Homo sapiens: one gene and its partners. The protein of the gene in region 6 purifies or fractionates together with the protein of the main gene of each other region. This does not show direct contact. Each region holds a gene or a part of one and is shown on either strand. Other genes may lie near its edges. The genes, in order: OSGEPL1, DENND2C, ANKRD54, HCLS1, FRS2, LYN and GAB2.

Region 1 (4,843 bases), on a different chromosome or scaffold from region 6:
CCTTTCCCCCAATAACCCTCTCCTATGTTACAATAGAGAACATAAAAAATGTATATCTTTGCTAAATACATGGGACTTGTATAAGTGCCACTTTACATATATTCGGTCAAGGGAAAGATAAAATTCCATACTAATGTGCCCTAGAGTTCTCCTGTTTCACATAATAACAGCATTCGGACTCAACACTGGCCAAGAGTGCCTAGACGAGGAATCTACCAATGATAGCACACACAATAGGATCTTGCTTGTCTTGACAGCACAGAAGAGCATTGGGATATACTTGCTGAACATAATTGGAATTGTAAGAAAAATAATACCTGATGTGAAAGGTTTTATGTTCAAACTGGATTCCAGTGTATAACAGAAATAAGCTCTGACCTCTCTAACCGTATGACTAATTTTTCTTAACTTTTAGGTTTTAATTTTTCTTTTTTCCCTTGTTTAGGCCAACAGTGCACCCTAGAGAAAATGTGAGTTATTTTCTCTTCTAGCAGTTAAGAAAACAGACTCCAGTGCCAGATGTCCTGACTTCTAATCCTAGCTTTGCTTTTCCTAGTTGTGTGACCTCCAAAGCACCCAAACTCTGTGGCCCAGTTGCCTGTAAAATGAGGACAGAAACTATTTCATGGGATTTTGAAAGAAATTAATCTACAGCAGGTGCCTGGTACATAGTGCCACTTTATCATTATTGTTACACATAAATGAAATTTTTGAAAAACATAAGTTCCAAATAAAAAACCTCAACCATATTCTGGTAATTATTTACTTATTTATCTGTATCCACCTCTAGACTGTACTCTGTGGCTTCCCAACATGTTGTTATGGGATTTACTCATCTTTTATACCCAGAGCTTCACAACGTGCAAAGTGCAGGTATATATGCCAGCCCTGTACAACAGTGGATTCTAAGGTCCTTGCTTACTAAAATCTTAAATACCAGCAGGGGAAAAGCCTGACTCTTGGAATAAATCTGTCCAATGTTCAAAACAAAGTTCACAAACCAATAAAAGAAAAAAAAAAAAAAAAGCAGGTGCAAGACTTTGAAAACATACCATGCTGAATTTCATGTACATAGTAAGGAAGGACAACATAATGCATTATGAAAATAGGATGGTTTAAGGCAACTGAATATTTACCACAGCCTTTTTTTTTTTTTTTTTTTTTTTTTTGAGACAGAGTCTCGCTCTGTAGCTCAGGCTGGAGTGCAGTGGCGCGATCTCGGCTCACTGCTACCTCCGCCTCCCGGGTCCCAGTTCAAGCAGTTCTCCTGCCTCAGTCTCCCGATTTTTTTTTTTTTTAATTGTAAAAATAAGCCAGCCCCTTTCTTCCTAGTGAAGTGGGAGAAACGGTTTACACTGTCCGATGAGAAACACTTCCGTTCTTTGGTAACCCTGCTAGGGGGCGCCGCTAGATTCCATCCTATTTCTCCGATGAAAGTATCAGGTACCTCACCCCTAAGTTTAGATTTGATGATAGTTCCCTTAAAAATGAATGACGAATAATCTACCCCATCCTTTTCTCACAGTAGCAACCAAATTCCAGCCAAGGGCAAAAAAAAAATTTCTTTTTAATGTAGCTTAGTGTTTGGAACTTGATGTTGTGTAGTCAGACAAACCTGTATTCGGCCTCCGCTGGATCAGTCACTAGCTGTGTAATTTTACAGAACTCTCATCACCTGCAAATCTGGGGGAAATGCAGGTGCGCACAGAGAGCGTTTTGGGCAAAGACGGCCTTTAAGCTTTTCTTCACTAAGCATGCCGCTCGCTAGCGGAACAGCAGCCAGCTCTGGACGGGACCTTGCACAGTTCCGATGACATCACTTCCGGGCGCCAGGTTCGGGCTTTCTCCTGCAGCGATAAGGGCAGTCGACAGTCTTTAGTAGGGAAAGGAGACAAGTGCTAGCTACTGCCGCCCAAGTGGAAGGTGGGTGAAATTGCTCACTCTTCACCCCACTGACGCTTTTGCGCACCTGGAAAAGCGGTTCCAGTTTGCGCCCGTCGCCGCCTTACAGCCGACAGGAGACCAGCGCTACCCAAGTCACGTGGGTTCAGCCTGCAGCTTTCTTGGCCCGAAAGGGTAGTGCTTCGTACAATCCTCCTTGTCCAGATTTTGTTAATGCAAATCTAATTCCTCTAGGTTGTGTCTGTCTGGGCTGCACTGCCCGCAACTGCCTTCTGCAAATAGGTCGCTCATCTCTAATCCCTGGGATGCCGTGTCCCTTTAGTGTGGTGGAGAAAGGCCCTGCTTTAACACCCAGAAAGTTTTAGAACGGATGATCTGGGGGCATAAAATTAGGTGCTTCGCAGTGTGAAAATACTAGTGTGCTTTAGTGATGGGCTGCTATTATTTTGGGGGAAAAGGATTTGGGAAGATCCTTGTTATGACAAAACCTGTAGCAAAAAGTGGAGATTTAATTCCAAAGATTGCAATTAAGGATAAAATAGGTGTTAGGTTGCAGTTGGCGTGTGTGTGTTTATGTTAACTCTTGTTTTTGAACCAAATGATCCAGTTTTATTTTGAAAGATGTTTTTAGGAGATGGAATACATTAACAGTATTTTTATCTGTTCCATCTGCCTTTGTTGTTTGATTCTTTTTAGAAAATCCACATTTTGTCTTAATTTTAGCTGTCAAAAAATAAATAGCACTTTTCAGAGGACTCTATCAATTATTGTACTTTATATTAGCTGTCTTAATAGTAAGTCTTTTGGTAGGAACAGCATGCAAGTAATAATAATACTAAAAAATTTTATATCTGACCCCTGTTTTCCCCCTTGGAGAACATTATATTCATTCATAATATTATTTATATTCCCATGTTGCTATAGCCTTTACAAACTTTTGGTGACTTTTACAAACTTTCCTGTAATTCTGTAAAACTATATATTGAAAAATAAGCTGGCTAATGTCAGTTGCAAATAATAAGTTGTTTCTGTAATTCTTTTTCAGGAATTATCTATAGAGTAAGTATGCTAATCTTGACTAAGACTGCAGGAGTTTTTTTTAAACCATCAAAAAGGAAAGTTTATGAATTTTTAAGAAGTTTTAATTTTCATCCTGGAACACTATTTCTTCATAAAATAGTATTGGGAATTGAAACTAGTTGTGATGATACAGCAGCTGCTGTGGTGGATGAAACTGGAAATGTGTTGGGAGAAGCAATACATTCCCAAACTGAAGTTCATTTAAAGTAAGTAGACATTATCTTAGTCATTTCCACTTTTTTGGAAAAAGTAAAATCATTCTTTTGTATTTGTCATATATAAAAGTTTTCAGGAGCTACTGTCTTATTCCTTTTTGCAAACACTTTTAATAACTGCTATAGAAAACCTCAAACACTTCATCCTGGCTTTTAAGGGTCTTCACAATAAGGTCCCAACCTTAACTAATCCTGTTGCCAAAAGAAACTGAGCTCATTCCCAGCTTCCGTATTTATTGATTTTCCTTCAGTAATGCATTCCTTCTTTTCTCCACTTCTATGTTTCATGGTCTCAGCTGAAGTCCTAGGAAAACTGTTAGTCATTGAAAAAAAAAATCCTATTCATATTTATACATATAACTTGTATTAGTACTTAAATAATAATACACTGTTGTATTAAAGCATAGAATGGTGCAAGGATTATAAACTGTGATGTTTATAGAGGACTACCAGGCAGGTTACCTAAATAAATGGACAAGATAAAAAGTGGAAAATGTCTGGAGGAGGTCACTACTCAGCTCTAGCCAGTTGTCATGTGGGAATGCAGGACCTGTGTTATTAGATTATTATAATTTTCAAGGGAAAATGGAAATCCAGATTTTTTTTTTCTTTTTTTTTGGTGAGACAGAGTCTCACTCTGTCACCAGGCTGGAGTGCAGTGGCATGATCTCGGCTCACTGCAATCTCCGCCTCTCGAGTTCAAACGATTCCCCTGTCTCAGCCTCCCAAGTAGCTGGGATTACAGGCACGTGCCACCACGCCCAGCTGATTTTTTGCATTTTAGTAGAGACGGGGTTTCACCATGTTGGCCAGGATGGTCTCAATCTCCTGACCTCTTGATCCACCTACCTCGGCCTCCCAAAGTGCAGGGATTACAGGCGTGAGACACCGCGCCGGGCTGGAAATCCAGATTGTTAATGTATTTGCAGATTTTTTACATTAGTAGCTAATTTAGAATATATTAAAATACTCTTGGGAGGTGGGGGGCGCCCCCGCCCAGCAGCCGCCCCGTCTGGGAGGTGGGGGCGCCTCTGCCCGGCAGCCGCCCCGTCTTAGGGGTGGGGGCCCCTCCGCCTGGCCGCCACCTCTGGGAAGTGAGGAGCCCCTCTGCCCGGCTGCCACCCCGTCTGGGAGGTGTACCCAACAGTTCATTGAGAACGGGCCATGATGACAATGGCGGTTTTGTCGAATAGAAAAGGGGGAAATGTGGGGAAAAGAAAGAGAGATCAGATTGTTAATATGTCTGTGTAGAAAGAAGTAGACATAGGAGACTCCATTTTGTTCTATACTAAGAAAAATCCTTCTGCCTTGGGATGCTGTTGATCTATAACCTTACCCCCAACCCCGTGCTCTCTGAAACATGTGCTGTGTCAACTCAGGGTTAAATGGATTAAGGGCGGTGCAAGATGTGCTTTGTTAGACAGATGCTTGAAGGCAGCATACTCGTTAAGAGTCATCACCACTCCCTAATCTCAAGTACCCAGGGACATAAACACTGCAGAAGGCCGCAGAGTCCTCTGCCTAGGAAAACCAGAGACCTTTGTTCACATGTTTATCTGCTGACCTTCTCTCCACTATTGTCCTATGGCCCTGCCAAATCCCCCTCTCCGAGAAACACCCAAGAATGATCAATAAATACTAAAAAA
Region 2 (4,233 bases), on a different chromosome or scaffold from region 6:
TTAAGAAGCTTATAACCCAACATGTAAATAAGGCTCTACAATTTCAGCATGATAAGAGCTGTAAAGAAGTATAGATTTAGGTACGTTTGAAGAGTTGCAAGAAAAAGAAAGAAGTATAGATAGAATTTAACCACTGATGAGGAAAAATCATTCTGCGTGTGGTAGGGAGGACGATTAGAGAGAAGATATTAAATTTGGCTTTGAAGGATGAATAGGAGTTTGCTGAAATTGGGTCAGGAAACAGGAGATATGAATGAAAACCAGGGATAAGTGTGCAAGTATATGGTATGTTTGAGGAATGTGTTGTAGTCCATTGTACTGAAGGCCAGGGTGTGTAGAAATGGGTGGTTTGGCTAAAGGAGATGGTGCCTGGAAATAAGATGAAAAAATAAAATTGCAAAGCTTCCTTGCTGATTGCATTAGGATCACTAAAATTGCTAGGTAATGTGGTATTTCACTTCCCTTCATTTGGAACAATGAAATGAGTAATTAGTTCAGTTTGGCAGAATGTTTCACTAAAAAATATGGTGTTAAAGGTACTTTTAATACTTTGAAGTACAAGATATAAGATAACATTACAGACTTAGGTAAGTAAAAAGTTAAGATTTAGGGCCAGGCGTGGTGGCTCATGCCTGTAATCCCAGCACTCTGGGAGGCCAAGGCAGGTGGATCAAGAGGTCAGGAGATCGGGAGCATCCTGGTCAACATGGCGAAACCCCATCTCTACTAAAATACAAAAATTATACGGGTGTGGTGGCGTGTGCCTGTAATCCCAGCTACTTGGGAGGCTGAGGCAGGAGAATCATTTGAACCAGGGAGTCAGAGGTTGCGGTGAGCTGAGGTCGTGCACCTGCACTCCAGCCTGGCAACAGAGTGAGACTGTCTTTAAAAAAAAAAGTTATGATTCAGAAAAAGAGGGAAAAAAGTCTTCTGATGCTAGGTCTTGAAGAGCCAGAGTATCGTGCTAAGGACTTTGGACTTGATTCTAAAGACAATGGAGAGCCAGTGAAGGATTTTAGATATAGGTGTTTAGGAAAGATAAGCTGAAAATGGTTTGGAGGCTGAATTGGATGAAGAGAGACAAAAGGTAGGGAGATAAGTTAGGAGGCTGTTGCTATTGAAATAGTCCAGATAAGGGAGGATAGGGGCCTGGAGTAGGAAAATAGTAATAGGGATGGAGAGGAGAGGATAGATAGTGAAGGTGTAGAATTTGACAGGGCTTTAAAATCAATTGGCTCAAAAGAGGAACAGAAAAGTAAATGACTTAGTTTTTTAGCTTGGAAAACTGTTTGGATGAAGGGTCTTGTTTTATTTTTTAATATTGGAGGAAGATAATTGTTTCCATTTTGAATTCATGTTGAGTTTGAATTGTCTTTGGAGCATTCAAGTGGAGATGTCGAGAGAGGATCTAGAGTCCAGAAGCCAGGCTAAAATTGGTGATTCAGATTTCAGAGGTAGCCAGTAAGTGTTAATTGAAGCCGTAAGAGCAGATGAAATTGCTCAAGGGAGTATGTAGAATTAGAAGAGAAGAGGGCCAAGAATAAATGATTTGCTTTATGTAAGTAGAAGGAATTATTTATCTATGCTAATTTTGTCCAACAAATTATTATTATAAAGCAATGAAATGGATTTTAATTGAAAGTTGAACAACTTTTACATCCAAATGAGTCCTGTTCTTTTAAAATTTCATTTGGAAGTCACTCATTTATTCCAGAAGTACAGATGCTCCTCAATTTTCGATAGGGTTATGTCTGAATAAACCCATCATAAGTTGAAAATATTGTTAGTCAACATGTGATAAACTTACGAAGGGTTTATCCGAATGTAACCCCATCATAAGTTAAGGAGGGTACTGAGCACATACTGCTTTGGCACCATCATAAAGTTGAAAAATTGTTAATTTAAACCATCATTAAGTCAGGGACTGTCTGTATTGCCCAAAGTATTATTGGAGCTTCTCTTTGTAAAAAGCTTTATAGCAAATTCACAGCTACACAAGAACGTAGATCTTCTGGCTTTATTATGGAATTGTTTTTCTGTCTCTTTATTTGCATGGCACATATAACTTATTTACTTTTTTTTTTTTTTTTTCAAGAGACAGGGTCTTGCTCTGCTACCCTGGCTGGAATACAGTGATGCAATCATAGCTCACTGCAGCCTGGACCTCTTGGGCTCAAGGGATCCTCCTGCTTCAGTCTCCTGAGAAACTAGGACTACAGGCATGCACCACCACCCCCTGCTAATTTTTATTTTTTATTTTATTTTTCTTGAGACAGAGTCTCTCTCTGTTGCCCAGGCTGGAGTGCAGTAGTGTGATCTCAGCTCACTGCAACCTCTGCCTCCCAGGTCCAAGTGATTCTCCTGTCTCAGCCTCCCAAGTAGCTGGGACTACAGGCGCACACCACCATGCCTGGGTAATTTTTTGTATTTTTGGTAGAGATGGGGTTTCACCATATTGATCAGGCTGGTCTCGAACTCCTGACCTCAGGTGATCCACCCGCCTTGGCCTCCCAAAGTGCTGGGATTACAGGTGTGAGCCACCACACCCGGCCTGACCCCCTGCTAATTAAAAAACAATTTTTTTTGCCCAGGCACAGTGGCTCACACCTGTAATCCTAGCACTTTGGGAGGCCAAGGCGGTGGGTCACTTCAGTCAGGAGTTTGAGACCCACCTGGCCAACATGGTGAAACCCCATCTCTACTAAAAACACAGAAATTAGCTGGATGTGGTGGCGCGTGTCTGTAGTCCCAGCTCCTTGGGAGACTGAGGCAGGAGAATCACTTGAACCCAGGAGGTGGAGGTTGCAGTGAGCTGAGATTGTGCCATTGTACTCCAGCCTGAGAGACAAGAGCGAAACTCTCCATCTCAAAAAAATTTAAATAAATAAATAAATACATAAATTTTTTTCTTTTGTAGAGATGGGGTTTCACTGTGTTGCCCATTCTGATCTTAAACTTCTGGGCCTAAGCACTCCTTCTGCCTCAGCCTATCCAAGTGTTAGGATTACAGGCATGAGCCACTGTGCCCAGCTTCCGTTCACAATCAATCAAAGCTTCGAAAGCATATTCCTATCCCATCACTGGATCTTTAGTTCTTGGAAGTCATAGACAAAGCTTAAAAAACAACAAAAGACTGTGTCCCCATGCCTATAATCAGCACGTTGGGAGGCCAAGATGGGAAGATCACTTGAGCCCAGGAGTTCTAGACCAGCCTGAGCAACATAAGGAGACCTCGTCTCTACAAAAAATTTTAAAAAATTAGCTGGCATGGTGGCACATGCCTGTGGTCCCAGCCGCTTGGGAGGCTGAGGTGGGAGAATTGCTAGAACCCGGGAGGCAGAGATTGCAGTTAGCCAAGATCGTGCCATTGCACTCCAGCTTGGGTGACAAGACAAAAAAAAAAAAAAAAAAGAATAGCAGTATGGTCTTCTAAGGCAGGGGTTAGCAAATATTCTGTAAAGGGCTAGATAGCAAATATTAATATTTTGTACTTTGTGTGCCATACGGTCTCTGTCATAACTACCCAATTCTGCCAAAAAGCAGCCATAGACAACGCTTCAATGAATAAGCATGGACTGTGTTCCAATAAAACTTTATTTATGGACACTGAAATTTGAATTTCATATAATTTTCACATCACAAAATGTTATACTTATTTGATCTTTCCACCCAACCATTAAAAAATGTAAAAACCACTCTTAACTCAGAGGCCTTGCAAAAACAGGCAGTGGGCCAAATTTGGCCCACAGGTAGGCCATAGTCTGCCAACCTTAACGGATCTTTGAAATATTTGAATTCGTAAGCTTGGTTTAGAAAAAAAAAATCATGGTTCTTCGAAATCATACCTCCTGTTTTTAAATTCTAGTACATTTCTTAAAATAATTAAAACATTTTCATTCATCCCCCATTTCTCATTTAAATGGAAAATACTCCCTTTACTGGTTTGGAACTTTAGATACAGAGAAATAGATTAACTTGTACAGAGTCAGAATAAAAAAGTATGTTTGAAAAATGTTTTTTGATATTCAGTGTTCTTTACTGAATCAATAAAACATTGATCTTTTCGCTTCAGTGAAAGTGGGGACATTGAAACCTGGGTGAAATAAAAGATAAATTTGAAGGGGTATTCTGCACTGGTTCCCAGAGGGTTGGACAGGATGGAATTTTATTCTCTTTTTCTTCTGCCCTGAATGAATAAGTTTTATCCTAAAGAAAAGAAAACATGATAATGTC
Region 3 (4,991 bases), on a different chromosome or scaffold from region 6:
TCTGTCGCCCAGACTGGAGTGCAGTGGTGCGATCTCGGCTCACCGCAAGCTCTGCCTCCTGGGTTCACGCCATTCTCCTGCCTCAGCCTCCTGAGTAGCTGGGACTAAAGGTGCCCACCACCACACCAGGCTAATTTTTTTGTATTTTTAGTAGAGACGGGGTTTCACCATGTTAGCCAGAATGGTCTCAATCTCCTGACCTCGTGATCTGCCTGCCTCAGCCTCCCAAAATGCTGGGATTACAGGCGTGAGCCACAGCGCCAGGCCTTTTTTTTGTTTTTGTTTCTTTCTGAGATGGAGTCTCGCTCTGTCACCCAGGCTGGAGTGCCATGGTGCGATCTCAGCTCACCGCAACCTCTGCCTCCCAGGTTCAAGCTACTCTCCTGCCTCAGTGTCCTGAATAGCTGGGATTACAGGCGTGCGCCACCACACCCAGCTAATTTTTGTATTTTTAGTAGAAACGAGGTTTCATCATGTTGGCCAGGCTTGTCTTGAACTCCCGACCTTGTCATCTGCCCATTTTGGCCTCCCAAAGTGCTGGGATTACAGGCGTGACCCACCGTGCGGAAAGATTACATTTTAACTGGGTTGAGTGGGAGGGTTTATATATGGAAAGAACTTTTGCCAGGACACAAGACCTGGTCCGGTGAGAGCTGGGCAACTGTGAATGAGTCTCTTCCCTCTGCTTTTCAACTCCTCACCTATAAAATAGGGATGGTCCTTCTTGTCTACTTTATAGAAGTGCTTGTGGGGTACGGGATTGTGAGAAGTTTTATGAAAACGTGCACCCATGAAATGTTGCTTGAGGAACACTTATTTGTTTCCTGGTCTTCTCCCATTGGATTGTGAGCATCTCAGGGGCACCAAGTCTGATCCTGTGTCCAGGACCTAGCAGTTACCTGGCTCAGTGACTGGCTGTCGAACTAAACTATTGCTCTAATGTAATCACTTTGTATTACAAATCTTTGTAGATCAGTCATCTACGTCGGGGTTACCTAGAGAACTCTGACTAAAGGAAATCCATTGCATTTAGACACTATTACTCACAGTTTGTAGTGGTATCTCCAAATTTCAACACATTTTCCCTTTCCCACGTACATTATGCATTTGTGGGAAGTTCTTTTTTTTTTTTTTTTTTGCGTTCATTGATTTACAACATCTATATCTACATGGATGGCGTGGCTTCTTCATTTTCCTTTGTGAGTGCCTGCAAATCATCTTAATCTGATTTGCTAAGGTATCTGCTTGTTTTCTCATTAGACTGGGAAATGGAGAGGAAAAAGAAAAAAAAAGGCCGGGCGCGGTGGCTCACGCCTGTAATCCCAGCACTTTGGGAGGCCGAGGCCGGCACATCTCGAGATCAAGAGATCGAGACCATCCTGGCCAACATGGTGAAACCCCGTCTCTACTAAAAATACAAAAATTAGCTGGGCGTGGTGGCGCGCGCCTGTAGTCCCAGCTACTCGGGAGGCTGAGGCAGGAGAATTGCTTCAAGGAGGCGGAGGTTGCAGTGAGCCGAGATCGCGAGCCTGGCGGCAGAGCGAGACTCCGTCGCAAAAAAAAAGCGTCTGAAATGCTGTTTTACTGGCTCCGGTAGCGACGTACAGCGAAAGCCAAGGTCACTTCAAGTTTGTAATTGGTTACAATGTCTGTCAGTCACGTTGCCGGAAACCCTGTCCAATTATCCTGCTTGTACTGTGCCCTCCCTTTCCGATTGGTTTTGGGACCGGTTTAAGCTGGAAGGGTAGTCATTGGTTCGCCGCTCTGTCTCGGCCTGAGCCCGCCCCCGCTCGGTTGCCGTGGTTGCGGGCCCTGCCCGCCCGCCAGCTCGCTGACAGCACGACTCAGGGCGGAGGGAAGTAGGTCCGTTGGTCGGTCGGGAACGAGGCTCAGGCGGCCAGGCCCGCGCGGAGCCGTTGCCATGGCAGCCGCCGCCGGGGACGCGGACGACGAGCCGCGCTCAGGCCACTCGAGCTCGGAGGGCGAGTGCGCGGTGGCGCCGGAGCCGCTGACTGACGCTGAGGGCCTCTTCTCCTTCGCTGACTTCGGGTCTGCGCTGGGCGGCGGCGGCGCGGGCCTCTCGGGCCGGGCGTCCGGCGGGGCCCAGTCGCCGCTGCGCTACTTGCACGTCCTGTGGCAGCAGGATGCGGAGCCGCGCGACGAGCTGCGCTGCAAGATACCCGCTGGCCGGCTGAGGCGCGCTGCCAGGCCCCACCGGCGGCTCGGGCCCACGGGCAAGGAGGTGCACGGTGAGCGGCGCGAGCGGCGCGGGGGCCCGGGGCGGGGCAGCCCGGGCGAGGGGCGGGGCCTCAGAGGACCAGTGGCCGCGCTTTGGTCGCCCCCGACCCTCAGCCGGGGTCCCCCGACGTCTGCGCTGAGGGCCACACTGACCCTTGAGTCTCCTTTCAGTAACGATGGTGATGATGGTTTTTTTAGAAAGTCTTCCTGCTCTGAGCCAGTCACCCCAGTCTTCTCTCACTGGGTAATTTCTGAATGGAAACTTCCCATGACTCGGAACGCTTATTGGTGAATAATAAAATGAGGTACTGGGGAACACTTTTATTATCATGGAGAGGGGAGGCCAGAGCCTGCAGCCAAGTCGTACCAGCTTGTTTAAATGCACGGACTTGGACTCCTTTACCACAGTTAGACCTTAGGGCAAATGATAGACCCTTTCAACCTTAGTTTTCTTTTTAAATTTTTTTATTTTTATTTATTTATTATTATTATCTTTTTGGAGACGGAGTCTCGCTCTGTTGCCCAGGCTGGAGTGCAGTGGCGCCATCTTGGTTCACTGCAACCTCCGCCCCCCGGGTTCAAGCGATTCTCCTGCCTCAGCCTCCCGAGTAGCTGGGGTTACAGGCGCCCACTACCAAGCCCGGCTAATTATTGTAATTTTAGTAAAGATGGGGTTTCACCATGTTTGCCAGGCTGGTCTCGAACTTCTGATCTCAGGTGATCCACCCACCTCGGCCTCCCAAAGTACTGGCATAACAGGCATGAGCCACTGGCCCGGCCTCAGCCCTAGTTTTCTCATCTGTAAAATGGGATGAGTTAAGTAAGGTAATGGATGTTTAGCTGTTATGCTGCCTTTGCTGTGCCCCAAACACTGCTGATACATGATCATCTGTCCTCACAAGAACTCTTTGAGACATAGAAATTGTTCCCACTTTACTGAAGAGGAAACTGAGGCTCAGAGAAATTGTCTTATTCCAGGTCACATAGCAAGTGGCTGTTGCTGGTATTAGAATCCGGGTCAGCCCGACTCAAACTTCTCCTCTGGTATATCTACCATATTGTCTTCTACAATGCATGGGTGACATGGAAACCCAGGCACTGAGAGATTAAGAATGGGGACTTTGGGGATTTCTTCCAGGACTGGCTATGACTCTAGCCATATTTTAGTGATGTCACGAAGATGAAATAAGAATTTGGAAGCGTTGTATTGACCATAAAGTGCTGTATGAAAGCAAGGAATTGTCATGTATCTGAATTGCAATTTTTGACCATATCTCCGATGACAAAGACATTGCTTTCCATTAGCCATTGGAGGGGGAAAATCTGCTTAGGAAATACCAAATTTAGGCAAATCATTTGGGAACGACCTGCTTTGAAGGAGAATATAAGATTATCTGTGTAACCAGCTCACAAAGAGCTTCTGTGTAAATCATTTGCAATAACTCGGGGCTGGCAGAACAACTCAGCCTTGTTTTGCAGATGATAGACCTGAGGCCCAGCTGGGTTAACTAGCTTGCTCAAGGTCACCCTGTGACTACAAGTGATAGAGAGGAAATCTGGCTCCAAAAGTCTTGGAGGATTTGCAGGAGGATGTGGCCTTTGTACTAGCTCCGCCTCATTTCAAGTTTCTCCTTGTTCCCAGGGCACTGTCTTTCTTTTCTTTTTTTGAGACGAGAGTCTCGCTTTACCACCCAGGCTGCAGTGCAGGTGGTGCAATCTCGGCTCACTGCCTCAGCCTCCCAAGTAGCTGGGACTACAGGCCCGCACCACCACACCCAGCTAGTTTTTGTATTTTTAGTAGAGATGGGGTTTTACCATGTTAGATTGATTTAAGTTAGAACTTAACCTAAGATTGAGAAATATTTTTTCTTTCTTTTTTTTTGAGATGGAGTGTTGCTCTGCCACCCAGGCTGGAGTGCCATGGTGTGATTTTGGGCTCAAGTGATTCTCGTGTCTCAGCCTCCCAAGTAGCTGGGATTACAGGCATGCACCACCACACCCGGCTAATTTTTGTGTTTTTATTTTATTTATTTATTTATTTATTTATTTATTTATTTATTTATTTATTTATTTTGAGACAGAGTCTTGCTCTATTGCCCAGGCTGGAGTGCAGTGGCGCGATCTTGGCTCACTGCAACCTCCGGCTCTCAAGTTCAAGTGATTCTCCTGCCTTAGCCTCCTGAGTAGTTGGGATAACAGGCATGCACCACCATGCCTGGCTAATTTTTGTATTTTTAGTAGAGAAGGGATTTCACCTTATTGGCCAGGCTGGTCTCAAACTCCTGACCTCGTGATCCACCCACCTTGGCCTCTCAAAGTGTTGGGATTACAGGCGTGAGCCACTGTGCCCGGCCTATGTTTTTTGTGTGTGTGTGTGTGTGTGTGTGTGTTTGTGTGAGACAGAGTCTCACTCTGTTGCCCGAGCTGGAGTACAGTGGCACAGTCTTGGCTCACTGCAACCTCTGCCTCCTGGGCTTAAGCGATTCTCCTGCCTGAGCCTCCCAAGTAGCTGGGATTGTAGGCGTGCACCCCCATGCCCAACTAATTTTTTGTATTTTAGTATAGACAAGGTTTCACCATGTTGCCCAGGGTGGTTTCAAACTCCAGAGCACAGGCAATCTGCCCACCTCAGCTTTCCAACGTTCTGGGATTACAGGCGTGAGTCACCACGTATGGCTAGTTTTGTATTTTTAGTAGAGATGGGGTTTCAGCATGTTGGCCAGGCTGGTCTTGAACTCCTGGCCTCAAGTGAT
Region 4 (4,233 bases), on a different chromosome or scaffold from region 6:
TTTTCCATAAGACATTATGGTTTCATTATGGTTCCCTGTGCCACTTCTTTAAGCTGTTTAATTATTTTAAACATGTACTTTGCAGTTTCTTTCATATTTTATATTATTTGCAGTTCTTGGCTGTGCCATTTCTTCTGACTAATCTGCGTTCCTCATGGTTATTTATTTCCTTGATGGTTTGTAATCTTGTTTATAAACTTATTTTAGTGAAGGAGAGGGATATTTGTTTTATGAGAATTTCATGTGCCCTGGGTTTAGTAAGTACCTCATCCAGGGAAATATTGCCTCTACTTCTGGCTCAACTCTAGAGGTCTTAATAGTAACGGACATTTTTTTTCCTTTATTATTATTTTTTCCCATGGAGTTCAAGTCTTTCTGGTTTTTAAGTTGGTTATGGTATGTTGTGCTTTTCAAGGAATTTGTTCATTTTGTCTGTGTTGTCAGGTTTATTGGCATAAATTCATTTATAATATTCTCTTCTTTTTAACTTCTGTAAGATTTCTAGTGATATGAAATGCCTATTTTCATTTCTGATCTTACTTACTTGTGTTTTTTCTCTTTTTAATTATTCTTACTAGAAGTTTATCAATTTTATTACTCTTTCCAAAGAACAAGCTTTTGGCTTTGCTAATTTTCTCTATTATTTACTTGTTTTAAAAAATGTATTGGTTTCTGCTCTTATCTTTATTATGTTTTTCTTCTACTTAGTATTAATTTAGTTTGTTCTTTTCCTAGCCTCTTAAAGTAGAAACTTAGATAATTGATTTTAAGCCTTCCTTTACTATATGGGCACTTGAAAAGCTATACATTTCCCTCTGAACACTACCTTCATTTGCTACAAACATTTGCTACATTCAACAAATATTTGAATGTGTGTGTTTTAATTTTCATTCATCACAAACCCGTGGTCCCAGCTATTCAGGGGACTAATGTGGGAGGATCACTTGAGCCCAGGAGGTTGAGGCTGCAGCAAGCCATGATTGTGCCACTACATTTTGGCCTGGGCAACAGAGTGAGACCCTGTCTCAAAAAACAACAACAACAACAACAACAACAACAACAAAAAATAAAATCATTCAGTTAAAAATATTTTCTTATTTCCCTTGTAATTTCTTCTTTGACACATGTATTATTTAAAAGCTGTTATTGATTTTCTGAGCATCAGGGAAATTTTCTAGATAATTTTATTGGTATTGACTTCTACTTTAATTCTATTGTGATCAGAATATGATCTCTGATATTTCAGTCTTTTGAAATGTACTGAGACTTACTGTCTTAGAGACTTATGGACTGGCACATGGTCTATTTGGTCAATGTTCTATATGCATGAAAAAAGTATATTCTGTAGTTTGGGGTATAGTGTTGTATAAGAGTCAATTAGGTTTATTAGTTGATAATGTTTGGATCTTCTATAATTTTACTGATTCGTTTTTGCCTAAAATACCTATTAATTAATGAAAGAATGGTGTTAAATGTTCAACTACTATTACAGATTTGTCTATTTCTCTTTCTACTTCTGTCAGCTTTTGCATTATTTGTGTGTGTGTGTGTGTGTGTGTGTGTGTGTGCGTGTGTGTGTGTGTTGGAGTCTTGCGATGTTTCTCAGGCTGGTCTCGAACTCCCGGGCTCAAGTCACCCTCCTGCCTCAGCCTTCTGAGTAGCTGGGACTACAGGCATTCACCACACCTGGTTTTTTACATTTTTCTTTTATTTGAGAGCTTCATGAATTTTGGTTCTGTGAATAGGTTTATGCCAGCATACATACTCCTGATGTAAGGTATTGTTCTTTTATCATTGGAGCATGTCTTTCTTGTCTCTTAGAATGCACTTTGTCTTGAGATCACTTTATCTCATATTCATGCCATCTTTCTTATGCTTACTCTTTCCAAAATGTATATTTTCCTGGATCAGTATTTAGTTAATTTCTCAGCTTAGAATTCCTGCATCACATAAGTGGAAAAAAAATGTGTATTTGCATTCTACACTCAGATGTAGGCTTGGAGTTTCCAAGTCTCATAAGCAAATTTTCCCCCTATCAAATATTGAACAGGTTACAAGCCCCCTTCATGATTTTCCTGAGTAAATGAGTAGAATTTTTCTAGCACTCTCTTATAGGAGTGGACAGAGCTTCGTTTCTGGCTTTCTTCCCTCCTCCCCCATTCTTAAATGGAAATTAGAATCACAGAGCCTCGATCCTAATCCCTATTCATTACATTTGGAATTTAAAATCTGACCAGGTGTGGTAGTTCACACCTGTAATTGCAGCATTTTGGGAGGCTGAGGTGGGTGGGTCCTTTGAGCCCAGGAGTTTAAGGCTAGCCTGGGCAACACAGTGAGATCCTATCACTACAGATTTTTTTTTAAATTAGCAAGTCATGGTGGCACCTGCCTGTGGTCCCAGTTACTCAGGAGGATTGCTTGACCCCAGGAGTTCAAGGTTACAGTGAGCCATGATTGTACTCTGCACTATAGCTTGAGCAAAAGAGCAAGACTCTACCTCTAAAAACAAAAAATCCCCCAAAAATGCCCTTGGGTTTTCTGTGGTGTCAGTTCATAATTATCTTCACACATACAGCTTTGATTCATCTCTTTGTCTCTGGTTTCTGGAGCCAGGATTTTTTCCCTTCCTTTCTGCTGAGCTTCACTTTTTTTTTTTTTGAGATGGAGTCTCGCTCTGTCACCCAGGCTGGAGTGCAATGGTGCAATCTTGGCTCACTGCAACCTCCACCCCCCATGTTCAAGTGACTCTCCTGTCTCAGCCTCCCCAGTAGCTGGGGCTACAGACGCACATCACCATGCCTGGATAATTTTTGTATTTTTTAGTAGAGACAGGGTTTCCCCATTTTGGCCAGGCTGGTCTCAAATTCCTGACCTCAGGTGATCCACCTGCCTCGGCCCCTGAAGTGCTGGGATTACAGGCATGAGCACCGTGCTCGGCCTGAGCTTCACTCTTTAAAACACAATTGTTATGTTTTATCTGACATTTCTATGTGCTTATATGGGAGTAGGGGAAAGGCATACATTTCATGTATCTGCCTTTTTTTTTCTGCAATCTCCTCACTCTCTATACTTTCCCCTTCTTGAAGAAGAAGGGAGAAAATGGGAATGTTCTTCTCATCTTGGCATGGAAATGAGAGAAGAGAGGGAAAAAGTAAGCAATATTCAATTAAAAGACTACTTAAGACATGGCTTCTCTTTAATTCCCCTGTATTCAAGCCCTGCTCTTTTCCCAGGCCCCTAACACTCTGTACCCATTCCTGCTGACCTCTCTTCTCCAGCGCTTCCCTGTGTGCTGGAGCCTAAGGGTGGGCTCTCATGACTGCTCCTTCGACCACAGATTACTCTCGTGGCTTTGGTGGCCGGTACGGGGTGGAGAAGGATAAATGGGACAAAGCAGCTCTGGGATATGACTACAAGGGAGAGACGGAGAAACACGAGTCCCAGAGAGGTGAGTTGGGGTTGGAAGGGGGAAGGTCACAGATAGCACAGGGATCTCCTTCCTTCCTTTCTGGAAGCTCACCCGGGTGCCCCAGAATACAGAGGGGCAGATGTGCAGAGCAGGGGGTGCCAGGGCAGTAAGCACATGTGTGGGGACAGGTGGTGGTAGTGAGGGGAGAGAGGAGAGATGGAGAGGAAAACAGAAGGATTAAGAGCAGGGCCTAGGAGGGAGGTGAGAGAGAAGGGGGCGTTGAGGAAGGAATGAGGACAGACAAGCTGAGTGATGGTCAGAAGATGGTTTGCCATGAGTCTTAGAGGGATCTCTGCTGTCCTCACAGAGGATAAAGAGGTTTACTGCTTCCCTGGAACCCATACGGATGGCTGAAGTGCTCTCTGTATTTTTTCCTATTTCTTTTACATTTTTCCTTATCTGTTGCTTTCTGCTTTCCATGTTTCCCTACTTCCATCTTTGTCTTCTCCATTCGCTCCCAGATTTTTTCCCCATCTGTTTCCCTCTCTTCCCATCCATGCCTCCCTCTATCCTCTGATTCTCACATTTCCTCCTACATTTGTTTTCCACATTCCTGTTTTTCTTCCCACTGATTCTTCTCACCACCCATTCCCAGCATTTTGATCTCCTATAACTCAGAACTTTCTGTCCTGCAGATTATGCCAAGGGCTTTGGTGGCCAGTATGGAATCCAGAAGGACCGAGTGGATAAGGTAAAGCACCGGAACACCAATGTCTTAAGAAGAGTTCCCTAAGTTTAGGAAAGTGTGCAGAGAAGAGCGTGAA
Region 5 (4,233 bases), on a different chromosome or scaffold from region 6:
CACTGGCTATGACAGTGATGAACGAAGAGATGCACCCTCTGTTAACAAACTGGTGTATGAAAATATAAATGGGCTATCTATCCCTAGTGCCTCAGGGGTCAGGAGAGGTCGTCTGACATCCACCAGTACCTCAGATACCCAGAATATCAACAACTCAGCTCAGAGAAGAACTGCATTATTAAACTATGAAAATCTACCATCTTTGCCTCCTGTTTGGGAAGCCCGCAAGCTAAGTAGGGATGAAGATGACAATTTAGGACCAAAGACCCCATCTCTAAATGGCTACCATAATAATCTAGATCCAATGCATAACTATGTAAATACAGAGAATGTAACAGTGCCAGCAAGTGCTCACAAAATAGAATATTCAAGGCGTCGGGACTGTACACCAACAGTCTTTAACTTTGATATCAGACGCCCAAGTTTAGAACACAGGCAGCTTAATTACATACAGGTTGACTTGGAAGGTGGCAGTGACTCTGACAACCCTCAGACTCCAAAAACGCCTACAACTCCCCTTCCACAAACCCCTACCAGGCGCACAGAGCTGTATGCCGTGATAGACATCGAGAGAACTGCTGCTATGTCAAATTTGCAGAAAGCACTGCCACGAGATGATGGTACATCTAGGAAAACTAGACACAATAGTACTGATCTGCCCATGTGAGCCTGGAAAGCATTGTGTTGTTTGCACCTTTGTGAAGTTTTTAAAAATGAAGATGCAAGTGCTTCATTTTCATTTCTAAACACTAACTCCTTTTATAGACTGATAAAATTTTTTTCTGAATATTTCATGTGCATCTTTAACTAAAGGGAATTAATGTAGAGCAGGTACTCCTTAAAGAACACTAATTTCATTATATACTACTCGTTGTACAGCAGCATTCCCGTTTTCACAGTGCCTATTTAAAATGAGAGTTGAAGTAAATGACATGCTGGTTGATTTTTATCAATATTCTGGACTTAACGCATACCTTTCATGTCTAAGTCATGGTTGGCTTTTAAAACTTTTTATAAAGCCTCTTGACAATGTACATTGCTAACAGGTAACTATAGGCTTTGAAAGTAATGCTCGTAGATTCAGTGTTCACAGTATGTGGCCTCCAGCATGTAACATGAGGAATCCTTTATTTCATTAATTAATGGCTTTTTGACTTGAGCCAAAACATATGTAAAGGAAACAGAAGTACCGCACCTCCTCTTACACCAGTCAGCTCCTTTGCCTTCAGTGTTACTAGAAAGCGGCCTGTGTCCATGAGTGTGCTTTGCTGTTGGTGCACTGAAAGGCAGGAAGGAGACAAGATTTTCTATTTACTCATCTCATGATGTCATTTGAAGGGCATGTCCAGATATCTTAAAATTATAATAGGCTCAAGAATCAGTCTCAGGTCACTTTACCCAAAAACATTTGAAAATCTGAACCACAATCTCCTGAAAGTTTTTCTCCTATAGATTGTTGACAACACATTGTTTTCTGGAGGCATTTGTGCCATTAGGTTTCCATTTATCTTCAGTTTTTTTCTTTGGTGTTTGGGATGTCTTATTTTGTTGCCTTATGTCCTTTTCAATTTAAAATGTTTGAGTTTGTATATAGTTTTGAAATTGGATTATGTGTTCATTGTTGTTTAGTTTGCATTTTTGTCAAATTATGGTTTTGAAGGTTCATTTGGAACTTACTGTTAGTCTGTAACAGGGTTGCCCTTGTCCAGTATTTATTTATAAGCTGTTTACTTTTCAAGTTGATAAAAACATTCTCCAATTCTAAATTTGCTTGTGTCCATAGGTGATCTCTTTAGCAAACTGAGAAAAAAAGGAAGCTACTTTTAACATGCAAAGTTCCCTCAAGGTGTACCGTGTTGTCTCTGTGGGCACTCTTCCCCAGCACTTTAGCAGTAATTCCCCCAGCTACACGCTGCAGTTGTACTCTGCCCACTCTAGTGTTCCTCAGCTCTGCTGTCCTTTTACTTGTAGCTGGATCTTTGATTATCCTTCGATTTCCATGAAATATTAATATTGTTGCCAGCATAGCAGGTACAGTGGAAGTCTTGTAGCAGTGAGATTGTATCATAATTTAGGATTTAAAATGAATTAAAGTTTATATAAACTGAAGAGTCTCCATATGTCAAACTCTTGGAAAATCAAAGATGTTCCAATTTCCTAAACACTAGAGAATACGAGAGAAGGTAGAGTGGAAAAGGTTAGGTAACCTTGCAAAATATTTTACTATTTTCTCTAAATATGAGGAAGTTTGAGATTATGATCTGGATCTACCAGATATAACTAAGGTTAATTTAGCATGAAAAAGTTTTAGTCATATTGGCATCCAACCTATTCAGTAACCGAATCATAGGACAATGATGGATTAGGAGAACAATAGAGTGGGATCATTATAAAGAAAATAAATTATTAAAGGTGTCTTTATCGTTTTAGTGCCATTTTTAGTGTCTTTACTATAAATCAATATCAGTGTATTTTATCATTCTATGTGCATAGCAGAATTTTCTTTTCTCCCTTTTGTTCCCCTGTGAACTTGGTGCTTATTAAAGTGCTCACTGTTCTCTTAAAAGAGAGCAGTGGTATAGGTGTGCAGTTTCCATGATGCAGGTTCCATTTTTAATATATTGTTCCACTTATCCTTTCTTCTGAGTAAATTGCTAATTGTGCCAAATTTATGTAATAGTTTTTGTAATGTGGAATAAGAATTATGATGGAACCATTGCACATTTTTTTCTGAAACAGCCAGTCAAGGCAGAACATTAATCTCCAAATGCAAGGGCTGATCTATTTATTCATTTTGGAGGTTGGGTACTTTATTCTTTCTTTCCGTCATCCTTTTCATTGTTTCCCCCGGATTCTAATTAGTTTTTATTTTTTTTAGATAACTCCAATATAATCATTACAGTTTATGCTTTAAATACTATGTGCTTTAAAAAGGAAAATGGGACCAATTTGTCTGCTAAGAATTTGATTTTAGGTACTATAAGAGTATTAGGAAAATATATACAACTGGTGTTAATTTCTAGATATTTTCTAGAAATCACTTGTGTTCCTATTTAATAAAAGGTAATTTAGAATACTACTTGTCCTTTGCAGTAGTTTAGTAATGGGCATTAAGCTGTGTCCTCGAAGGATGTACCTATTACTAGGTGCATTTTAGAATGAAATATTGATATTTTATTAGCATATAATTGTGGCCATATATCTCAGATTTTCTGAGGCAGATCTAATTTTAGATAATTCTGTTGGTAGACCATGTGATCCTTCTTTTTGGTTTTGGAAATATAATCATTGTTAATGTTTTCCCTCCAAATAGAATACTGTTTTATCCATACAAATCATAACAGCATCTATCCCATGCTAGGGTTGGAAACTGATATTGGTATTACTTGTGTTTTTTCTTAGTGTGTTTTATTTCCCAGTTTCATCTTCTTCTAAAAATGAAAATATGGTGCCTTCCCTCCCTCCAGGAAGACTGGCAAATATTTCCTTTTATTTACTGCTGCTGTGGAGTGATGAGATATGCACTTTACTCTTTAAGATTCAGCAAAAAGCTTTTCACTTCTCAGTATATCCAGAATACATCATATCTGGGACTTAGGAAAATTTGCCAAGCAATCTTTGTTTTTATAGATACTAATGTTGACCCTCTCCAGCGTTCAATGTTATAAATAGAACAAGTCAAGCTAGTGTTTATCTCCTCCCCCTCCCCAAAACTGTGGCACAGCATATAAAAATGTACCTCAATAATGTTCTATTAAAAATGGGACAGGGGCCTTATGTTTTCATAATTTCCCAACAATGTGCCGCCATATTTTTGCCTCAAGGTAAAGGTTTTAACAGATGAAAAAGTACTTCCCAATTCCCCCGTGCTATTCCTAACCTATAATGCCCAAATGTTTTGTGCAATGTGTAGTGTGTGTGTATAAATACATATATTCTTGAAATAGACATACCATCAGAGACATCATTCACAAGTAACTGATGTATTGGCATCTCATTCATATTTCTGATGTGTGAGGTATATGGTACTAATTACCTTTTCCTTGATGTTTGCCAAATTTGAATAAAGGCATTGGTACGAAATTACAGAATGTAAAGAAAATGTTTTTGGCTTGAAAAATTAACATATTTTATGACGTACCACAGTATACTCTGCCCAAACCAGCACCCTATCTATCTTTCCTGTTCTTTACATCCCTGTTCCCCATCCCTACTTCCTCATTTTTGGTATAA
Region 6 (4,233 bases):
GAACGCTTTAATTACTGTTTGGAATCTGAGCTCCTTAAAGCACTCTGGCATGGAAAAGAAGGCCAAAATACACTAGGTTTGTTGCAAGTCTGTTATTATTTCTGAGAATCATTTTTTTAAATGCACTCAGATTTATGCAAATGCGGGATGTGGGTAGGTGTGACAAATGCCTTACTAACAAGTCCCTGGAGTGCTTTTTGTAATGAGTTGATCATCACGTGTGTCCTTGCTGCTGTGTGGGAGGCTGGGTCCCTGCCATCATGCCCACCTGTGTGGCCGATCAACAGCGTTGGGAGAGGGGCAGCACAGGTTCCTGGTTGCTATTGTCAACTGTGGTTTCAGGCCCAATTTGGGACTTCAGCCAGCTTTGGCTTCTTTGGGTTCTTGGCCCAGTTTATATATAATTATTGGAATGTTAGGTAGATAAGTGTCTAAGAGCTAAGAATTTTTAAAGGCTGCACTACCATGGAGTGGAGCCGGGAGGCTGGGACAGAGTCAGCTATGACCGCTCAATTGCTGCTGTCTCATCTGGGCTCCTGTAACCAACTCTGGTCTGTTTGAGCCAGGCATCGTGGTTCTATCGCCAAAAGCCTACTGTGTTATAATCGTACACTCCTTTCTTTCACACATGCTCAGCCTGATCTTCGCTCTCCACTTTTCCCAGTTTTACTGGCTTTTTCTAACAAGTCTTGTTGAACTTGGGTTACCAGCAGACAAAAGGAAACAGAGGCAGGGCTCCTCTCTCCCAGCCGCCACCAAAATTGCCACCCCGTGTCATCTGTTTCAGTAGTGCCCACTCTAGAAGGAGCTATCCTGAACTTCCTGACGCCCTCACCATGCCACTGCCTGCTGTTTCTGGGCAGCAGAGGCTTCCTAGAGAAAGTCAGACTCAGGAGCTCTGCCTTCACCTGGTTATCACCACTGCCCACCTTCTGTTGACTTCCCATCAAGGCTGTTTGAATCTTTTCCAGGGTCAGGTAAAAGCTGTGCATCTCCCCAGTGCTCAGGGTTTGTGACAGTTGGGAGAAAGGCAGGGGACACGAAGTCACTGCTCTCCAAACCTGCCCTGTCCTTTTCCTACTGTCCGTCTGGTTTCTGCTCCACTCAGCCTCTGTCCCACTTCTCAAGTCCCTCATGAAATGAAGCCTCCTGCTGTGCTTAGTGCTGTGCTGTGCTCAGTGCTGGGATGGGTTCATGTTCCTGCAGAAATTGTGGACAGGTAGTCAGGTGAGGAGCAGGGAGCACTGGGGATGCATGCACACCTGGCAGGAGAGGGTATGCCAGGCATGGCTTCCGGGAGAAGTAAAATCTCAGCTGAGACAGGCAAACTGCATAGGTCGGGTGAAAGGGGCAGGGAGGGAATGAGCGTTCCACACAGAGGCAGGGGGTGTAGAAGCACAAAGGAGGGGGTCGTGGTGAGGAGGTGGAGGGCTGAGCCGGGGCCGGGTCATACGGGGCCTTGGCAGCAGTGCAAAGGAGCTTGGACCACATTCTTTGTTTCCACTCGGAAGTGAAATACTGGACTGAATAGTCTTTGAGACTGATGTAGGCCACACTGATTATTTTACTTGAGATTTTTGTGACCATGAGAATATCATCTGCCAAATCCCTGTAGTAGTGGGCTAACAAGATAGTATTCTGGTCATGTGAAAACCCCAGCCCATTTCCCAAAGGACTTACTTTGTCTCTGATAAGAGGTTTGGTGACAAGTTTGAAGGCTCCAATGTATACAAGTGAGAATAGAAAAGATATTTTCAGCCCTAGAGGTGTTTATCAACTGGCTAACATGACACCACTGAGAGCATTAAACAGCATAAAAATAATGACAAAGCTGTGATCAGCAGCTGCAGATGGTTTTTGTACACATTGACCATCTAGGGTGAGTAAAGGGGAGTTCAGGGAAGGCCCACGGGGCAGAAGGTGAGGCCAGGGATTGGCCTAGAGGGGAAGCAAAGGCAGACCCAATACCAAGGAGCTAATCTTTTGCTAAGCAACGTGGTCTGGAACTGGCGGCCTGAAGTGCTTGATTACCAGGGATACTGTTGCAGATGACTGGGGAAAGTCAGATCCTCCAAGCCGAGCCACCTGCAATTCAAGGTAGAATCTGGCAGAATACATTCATTCCTGTGTGAAAAATTCGAATCAGAGTTTTCTCTAACTGCTTACCAGATAAACTACTACTTGGCTTTCTTTACTTCTTGCCCTTTTTCTTGCTTCTTACTTCCCTCCTTTCCTCCTCTCTCCTTGTTTCCTTCCTTCCTTCATTTCCTTGTTCCTTCCTTCTTTCCTTGCTTGCTTTCTTCCATCCTTCCTTCCCTCCTTCCTTTCCTTTCTTCCTTCCTTCTCCTTAACTTTATAATTTGGTAATGTCTTCCTTAAAAACCTGACTTTGGAACGATACTACACTTTCTATTCAGCAACGAGTAGTAGTTTTGCCTCCCTATGTTATTGTTGTGTTTAAATCCTGGATTCTTTCCTGCTGTCATACTTTGTCATGAGAGTGAATCTTGCCGGGCGTGGTGGCTCATGCCTGTAATTTCAGCACTTTGGGAGGCTGAGGTGAGTGGATCACCTGAGGCCAGGAATTTGAGACCAGCCTGATGAAACCCCATCTCTACTAAAAATACAAAAACTAGCATGGTGAAACCCCGTCTGTACTAAAAATACAAAAATTCGCCAGGCATGGTGGTGCGTGCCTGTAATCCCAGCTACTCGGGAGGCTGAGGAAGGAGAATCACTTGAACCTAGGAGGCGGGAGGTTGCAGTGAGCTGAGATCATGCTACTGCACTCCAGCCTGGGGGAGACAGTGAGACTGTCTCAAAAAAAAAAAAAAAAGAGTGAATCTTTGTGATTGTCCTGGAGGGAATGTGCAGAGAGAACTTGGAGAGCCAGTTCCATGGGCTGTTGATTAACCTGACAGAAACGACATCCTGTTCTTGATACCTTAATAATTTATTTGTATTAGCATGTCACTTTCTCCAACTCTATTTTCATAGTTGGTTCAGGCTGCCATAATAAAATTCCATAGACTGGGTGGCTTAAACGAGAGACATTTATTTCCCACAGTTTAGGGGCAAGGAAAGCCCTGGCAGGTTTCATGTCTGATGAGGGGCCATTTCCTGGTTCATAGATGGCACCATATAGCTGTGTCCTCACGTGGTGGAAGGGGCAAGGCAGCTCTCTGGGGTCTCTTTTACAAGGGCACTAATCCCATTCGTGAGGGCTCCACCGTCCTGATCTAATCACCTGCCAAGGCCCTGCCTCCTAATACTATTGCCTCGGGGTTCAGGATTGCAACATTTGAACTTTGGGGTAGGGGGCGGGGAATGGGACACAAACATTCAGACCATAGCATCTGTTTTCTGATTTGAGAAACTGGCATAATAACATCTATGTATCTACATGGATGAATTTAGCAGGGTCTTGAAAAGATTCTTCACACATTAGAAAATGTTAAGACATGGCCAGGCGCGGTGGCTCACGCCTGTAATCCCAGCACTTTGGGAGGCCAAGGCGGGCGGATCACGAGGTCAGGAGATCGAGACCATCCTGGCTAACATGGTGAAACCCCGTCTCTACTAAAAATACAAAAAATTAGCCGGGCATGGTGGTGGGTGCCTGTAGTCCCAGCTACTCGGGAGGCTGAGGCAGGAGAATGGTGTGAACCCAGGAGGTGGAGCTTGCAGTGAGCCAAGATAGCGCCACTGCACTCCGGCCTGGGTGAAAGAGCGAGACTCCGTCTCAAGAAAAAAAAAGAAAATGTTAAGACATGTTCCTTTTTTTTTTTTTAAGATGACCATTGTTGGAGATTTGGCAGAGGGTGGTCAGTTATTTTAGAAAGGGCTCAAATGGTGATTGCCATTACCCACTGTCTTTAAAAGCTGAATGATCAAAATAGTATACATGAAAAGATTTCAGGAATTCATAAGTTTTCCGGTTTTCCTTGATGGCACTTTCCAGTCACCTACCCTACATATGAAAATGGGAGCCTATTTCTGTTTTCAGATTGCAGAGGGAATGGCATACATCGAGCGGAAGAACTACATTCACCGGGACCTGCGAGCAGCTAATGTTCTGGTCTCCGAGTCACTCATGTGCAAAATTGCAGATTTTGGCCTTGCTAGAGTAATTGAAGATAATGAGTACACAGCAAGGGAAGGTATGTTGCACTAATGATCTTTAGATGTTTTATTATTGTGTTTTATTTTGTTTTTGTCTGTTTTTGACAAAGC
Region 7 (4,233 bases), on a different chromosome or scaffold from region 6:
TCTCAATCTCTTGACCTCGTGATCCGCCCACCTTGGCCTCCCAAAGTGCTGGGATTACAGGCGTGAGCCACTGCGCCGGCTTTCCTGGTTTTTTTTTTTCTACACATTTTACAGGTTTATGTTTTTCCTTTAAGTCCGTGATCCACTGTGAGTTAATTTTCATGTAAGATGTGAGACTTAGATTGAGGTTCTTTTGTTGTTGTCATTGTTGTTGACAAAGCCATCCTACTTCCATTGAATTGCTTTTCCGTCTTTGTCAAAAATCAGTTGGACGTATTTGTGTGGGTCTGTTTCTGTTGTCTCTGTTTTGGTCCATTTTTCCATGTGTCTGTCCCTCTGCAAATACCATAGAATCTTGCCAACTCTAGCTATATTGTAAGTCTTGAAATCTGGTAGCCTGATTCCTCTACTTTATTCTTATTTTTCAAAGTGTTTTAGCTATTCTATTATCTTTACCTTTCAATACAAATTTTAGAATAATCTTGTTTATGCAAAAAAAAGAAAGTCTTGCTGAGATTTTAATAGGAAGTGCATTAATCCTGTGTACCAATTTGGGAAGAAATTACAGCTTTACTATATTAAATCTTCCAGTCCATGAATTTATTTTACATTTATTTATATATGTCTTTCTTCCTTCGTTTATTTTCTTCTCCTTCCACCATCCCCCCCCCCAACCACCCCCACCAGAATCTTGCTGTGTCACACAGGCTGGCGACAGTGGCACAATCATGGCTCACTGCAGCCTCAAATTCCTGGGCTCAGGTGATCCTACTGTCTCAGCCTCCCAAGTAATTGGGACGACAGCTGCGTACTGCTGTGCCTGGCTAATTTTTTTTTTTATTATTTGTAGAGACAGGGTCTCCCTGCGTTGCCCAGGCTGGTCTCACACTCCGGAGCTTAAGCAGTCCTCCCACCTTGGCTTCCCAGAGTGCTGCGATTATAGGTGTGAACCACCATGTCTAGCCTTCTGGAAGAGATGGTGTAGAACTGGTATAATTCTTTAAACCTTTGGTAGAATTCTCCAGATTAAACCATCTGGATCTGGAAATGTCTTTGTTAGGAATTTTTTACATTTTTAATCCAATTTCTTTAATAGATACGGGGTTCTTCAAATTATCTACTTCATATTGGCTGAATTATAGAAGTTTACATTTTTCAACAAATTGGTCCATTTTGTCTAAGTTGTTACATACATGTGAGTGGAGTTACAGTATCCTGTATTATGCTTTCAGTGTCTGCAGGGTCTGTAGTGGGTCCACTGCTTTATTTTTTTAACCCTTATTCTTGCATACTGACATTGCTTCATTATTATTTTTTGTTTGTTTTTTGAGACAGCATGTCACTCTGTCACCTGGGGTGGAGTGCAATGGCACGATCTCAGCTCACTACAACCTCCACCTCCCAGGTTCCAGCAGTTCTCCTGCCTCAGCCTCCCGAGCAGCTGGGATTGCAGGCATGTGCCACAATGCCCAGCTGATTTTTGTATTTTTAGTAGAGACAGGGTTTCACCATATTGGCCAGGCTGGTCTCAAACTCCTGACCTTAAGTGATCTGCCTGCTTTGGCCTCCCAAAGTGCTGCAATTACAGGCATGAGCCGCTGCACCTGGCCTCTGATTTTTTTATATAGTAGTTTATTCATTTGAGACTTTTCCTCTTATTTAATGTATTCATTTACTGCTATGAATTTCCCTCTCAGCACTGCTTTAGCTGTGTCCCACTAATTTTGATAAATTGCATTTTCAATTTTTATTTGCTCAGTATATATATATTTTTTTTACTTTCCTTGAGACTTTCCTCTTTGACCATGGATTATTTACAAGTACATTGTTTAGTTTCCAAATGTTTGGAGATTTTCCCATTATTTTTCTGTTTCTGTCTTTTAGTTGGAATTCATTGTGGGAGTAGAGTAAGTTCTATTTGATTTCAATTATTTTTAACTTGTCAAGGTTTATTTTATTGCTGAAAATGTGGTCTATCTTGCTTTAGGTTCCATGGGTACTTTGAAAAGAATGTTTATTCTGCTATTATTGGGTAAAGTATTCCATAAATGTCAATTATATCTTTTTGATTGATAGTGATATATATAATTCTTTTATATCCTTGCTGATTTTTCTATCTAGTTCTTCTGTCGATTGTTGAGAGACAGGGGTTGAAGTTTCCAACTATAATTGTGAATATTTCTGTTTCTCATTTCACTTATATCTGTTTTTGTTTCACATATTTTATTTTTTTTATTATTTTTTTGGAGATGGAGTTCCGCTGTTGTTGCCCAGGCTGGAGGTGCAATAGCATGATCTCAGCTCTCCGCAACCTCCACCTCCTGGGTGCAAGCAATTCTCCTGCCTCAGCCTCCCAAGTAGTTGGGATTACAGGCATGCGCCACCACACCCGGCTAATTTTGTATTTTTAATAGAGACAGGGTTTCTCCATGTTGGCCAGACTGGTCTCGAACTCCTGACCTCAGGTCATCCGCCTGCCTCGGCCTCCCAAAGTGCTGGGATTACAGACATGAGCCACCGCACCCAGCCCTGTTGTTCAATATATACACATTTAGAATTGCAACATCTTCTTGGTGGCATGACCCTTTTATCTTTATATAATACCTGCTGAGTCTCTGGTAATTTCTTTTGCTCTGAGGTCTACTTGTTATCTGATATATTATACAAGTATCTGAGGGCTACTTGATATATTATAGCCTATATCTGATGATATAGTTATTCTTGCTTTCCTTTTATTGATATTCACATGATACATCTTTTCCATCAATTTACTTTCAACCTACCCATATCATTGTATTTGAAGTGATATCTTATAGGTGGCATATTGTTGGGGTGTATTAATCCGTTCTCGCACTGCTGTAAAGAACTACCTGAGACTGGGTAATTTATCAAGAAAAGAGGTTTAATTGGCCCACAGTTCCACAAGCTGTACAGGAAGCATGGCTGGGGAGGCCTCAGGAAACTTACAGTCATGGCGGAAGGTGAGGGAGAAGCAGGCACATCTTACATGGCTGGAGCAGGAGGAAGAGAGTGAGGGGAGAGGTACTACACACTTCTAAATAACCAGATCTCACAATAACTCACTCACTATCATGAGAACAGCACCAAAGGGGAACTCCACCTCCATAATCCAATCATTTCCCATCAGGCCCCACCTCCAATATTTGGGGATGACAATTTGACCTCAGATTTGGGCAGGGACACATACCCAAACCATATCATGGGGCATGTTTTTAATCCACTGTGCTGATTTATGTCTTAATTGGTATATTTAAATTTACACTTAATATAATTTCTAATATGCTAGAGCTTAGTTCTGCCACTTTATTTTTTGTTTGTGTTCTGTTTTTGTTTTCTTCTTGCCTTCCTGTGAGTTTCTTGAATATTTTTTAGAATTCCATTTTGATTTATCTATATAGTGTTTTTGAGTGTATCTCTCTATACAGCTTTTTTAGTGGTTGCTCTAGGTATTATACTGTACATACAACAGTCAGTTGGTGTCGTCTTATAATCTAAATGAAGTCTGTATCATCATTTTACAAGTTTAAGTAAAGTATAGTAACCTTACCTCCCTTTATGTCCTTTTGCCATCCTCCATATATAATTGTCTTAAATATTTTTTTTATATCAGACAGTGCTATAATTTTTGCTTCAGTCATTAAACCTAATTTAGAAAACTCAGAAGGAAAGACTATTTAATTACATTTTTGTTTACTATGTGCTTTCTTCTTTGCTGATGTTTTCAGGTTCCTCTTTTTTTCATTTCCTTTCTGTTTAGAGAACTTCCTTTAGCCATTCTTTAGGGTAGATTGGCCAGTGATAAATTGTCTTTATTTTCCTTCACCTGAGAAGGTCTCATTTTCCCCTTCATTCTGATATTTTCACTGGATATTGAATTATTTAGTTGACACTTCTTTTCTTTGAGCACCTGTAAAATACTGCATCCTTTCCTTCTGGCCTGCATGGTTTCTAATGAAAAATCCATGGTCTTTCCAATTGCTTTCCCTCAGGAGGTAAAATGCCCTCTTTTTCTTTCTTTTCTTTTCTTTCTTTCTTTCTCTCTCTTTCTTTCTTTCTTTCTTTTTCTTTCTTTCTTTCTTTCTTTCTTTTTGGGACGGAAAATGCCATCTCTTTCTTTCTTTCTTTCTTTCTTTCTTTCTTTCTTTCTTTCTTACTTTCTTTCTTTCTTTCTTTCTTTGAGAAGGAGTTTCACTCTTGTCACCCAGGCTGGAA

What was found.
Region 1: the proteins of LYN (region 6) and OSGEPL1 fractionate together in Homo sapiens (co-fractionation; one large-scale study listed by BioGRID). This does not show direct contact.
Region 2: the proteins of LYN (region 6) and DENND2C purify together in Homo sapiens (affinity purification with a luminescence readout, with the first as the bait; one large-scale study listed by BioGRID). This does not show direct contact.
Region 3: the proteins of LYN (region 6) and ANKRD54 purify together in Homo sapiens (affinity purification with mass spectrometry; 3 studies listed by BioGRID and IntAct, with this or other methods). This does not show direct contact.
Region 4: the proteins of LYN (region 6) and HCLS1 purify together in Homo sapiens (affinity purification with western blotting; 2 studies listed by BioGRID and IntAct, with this or other methods). This does not show direct contact.
Region 5: the proteins of LYN (region 6) and FRS2 purify together in Homo sapiens (affinity purification with a luminescence readout, with the first as the bait; one large-scale study listed by BioGRID). This does not show direct contact.
Region 7: the proteins of LYN (region 6) and GAB2 purify together in Homo sapiens (affinity purification with western blotting, with the first as the bait; one study listed by BioGRID). This does not show direct contact.

The regions. Positions count from the first base shown.
Region 1 is NC_000002.12:189,759,765-189,764,607, reverse strand, and holds the start of OSGEPL1 (tRNA N6-adenosine threonylcarbamoyltransferase, mitochondrial), read left to right. Parts: upstream 1-1,847; 5' UTR 1,848-1,923; exon of another isoform or gene 1,924-2,076; intron 2,077-2,947; coding exon of another isoform or gene 2,948-2,967; coding exon 2,968-3,188; intron 3,189-3,288; exon of another isoform or gene 3,289-3,481; coding exon of another isoform or gene 3,482-3,510; intron 3,511-4,843. UniProt on the Homo sapiens protein: Required for the formation of a threonylcarbamoyl group on adenosine at position 37 (t(6)A37) in mitochondrial tRNAs that read codons beginning with adenine.
Region 2 is NC_000001.11:114,663,130-114,667,362, reverse strand, and holds part of DENND2C (DENN domain-containing protein 2C), read left to right. Parts: intron 1-4,233. UniProt on the Homo sapiens protein: Guanine nucleotide exchange factor (GEF) which may activate RAB9A and RAB9B. Promotes the exchange of GDP to GTP, converting inactive GDP-bound Rab proteins into their active GTP-bound form.
Region 3 is NC_000022.11:37,841,169-37,846,159, reverse strand, and holds the start of ANKRD54 (ankyrin repeat domain-containing protein 54), read left to right. Parts: upstream 1-1,825; 5' UTR 1,826-1,921; coding exon 1,922-2,249; intron 2,250-2,311; exon of another isoform or gene 2,312-2,543; intron 2,544-4,991. UniProt on the Homo sapiens protein: Plays an important role in regulating intracellular signaling events associated with erythroid terminal differentiation.
Region 4 is NC_000003.12:121,636,361-121,640,593, reverse strand, and holds part of HCLS1 (hematopoietic lineage cell-specific protein), read left to right. Parts: intron 1-3,337; coding exon 3,338-3,448; intron 3,449-4,104; coding exon 4,105-4,160; intron 4,161-4,233. UniProt on the Homo sapiens protein: Substrate of the antigen receptor-coupled tyrosine kinase. Plays a role in antigen receptor signaling for both clonal expansion and deletion in lymphoid cells. May also be involved in the regulation of gene expression.
Region 5 is NC_000012.12:69,574,289-69,578,521, forward strand, and holds part of FRS2 (fibroblast growth factor receptor substrate 2), read left to right. Parts: coding exon 1-667; 3' UTR 668-4,233. UniProt on the Homo sapiens protein: Adapter protein that links activated FGR and NGF receptors to downstream signaling pathways.
Region 6 is NC_000008.11:55,994,340-55,998,572, forward strand, and holds part of LYN (tyrosine-protein kinase Lyn), read left to right. Parts: intron 1-4,006; coding exon 4,007-4,160; intron 4,161-4,233. UniProt on the Homo sapiens protein: Non-receptor tyrosine-protein kinase that transmits signals from cell surface receptors and plays an important role in the regulation of innate and adaptive immune responses, hematopoiesis, responses to growth factors and cytokines, integrin signaling, but also responses to DNA damage and genotoxic agents.
Region 7 is NC_000011.10:78,407,599-78,411,831, reverse strand, and holds part of GAB2 (GRB2-associated-binding protein 2), read left to right. Parts: intron 1-4,233. UniProt on the Homo sapiens protein: Adapter protein which acts downstream of several membrane receptors including cytokine, antigen, hormone, cell matrix and growth factor receptors to regulate multiple signaling pathways.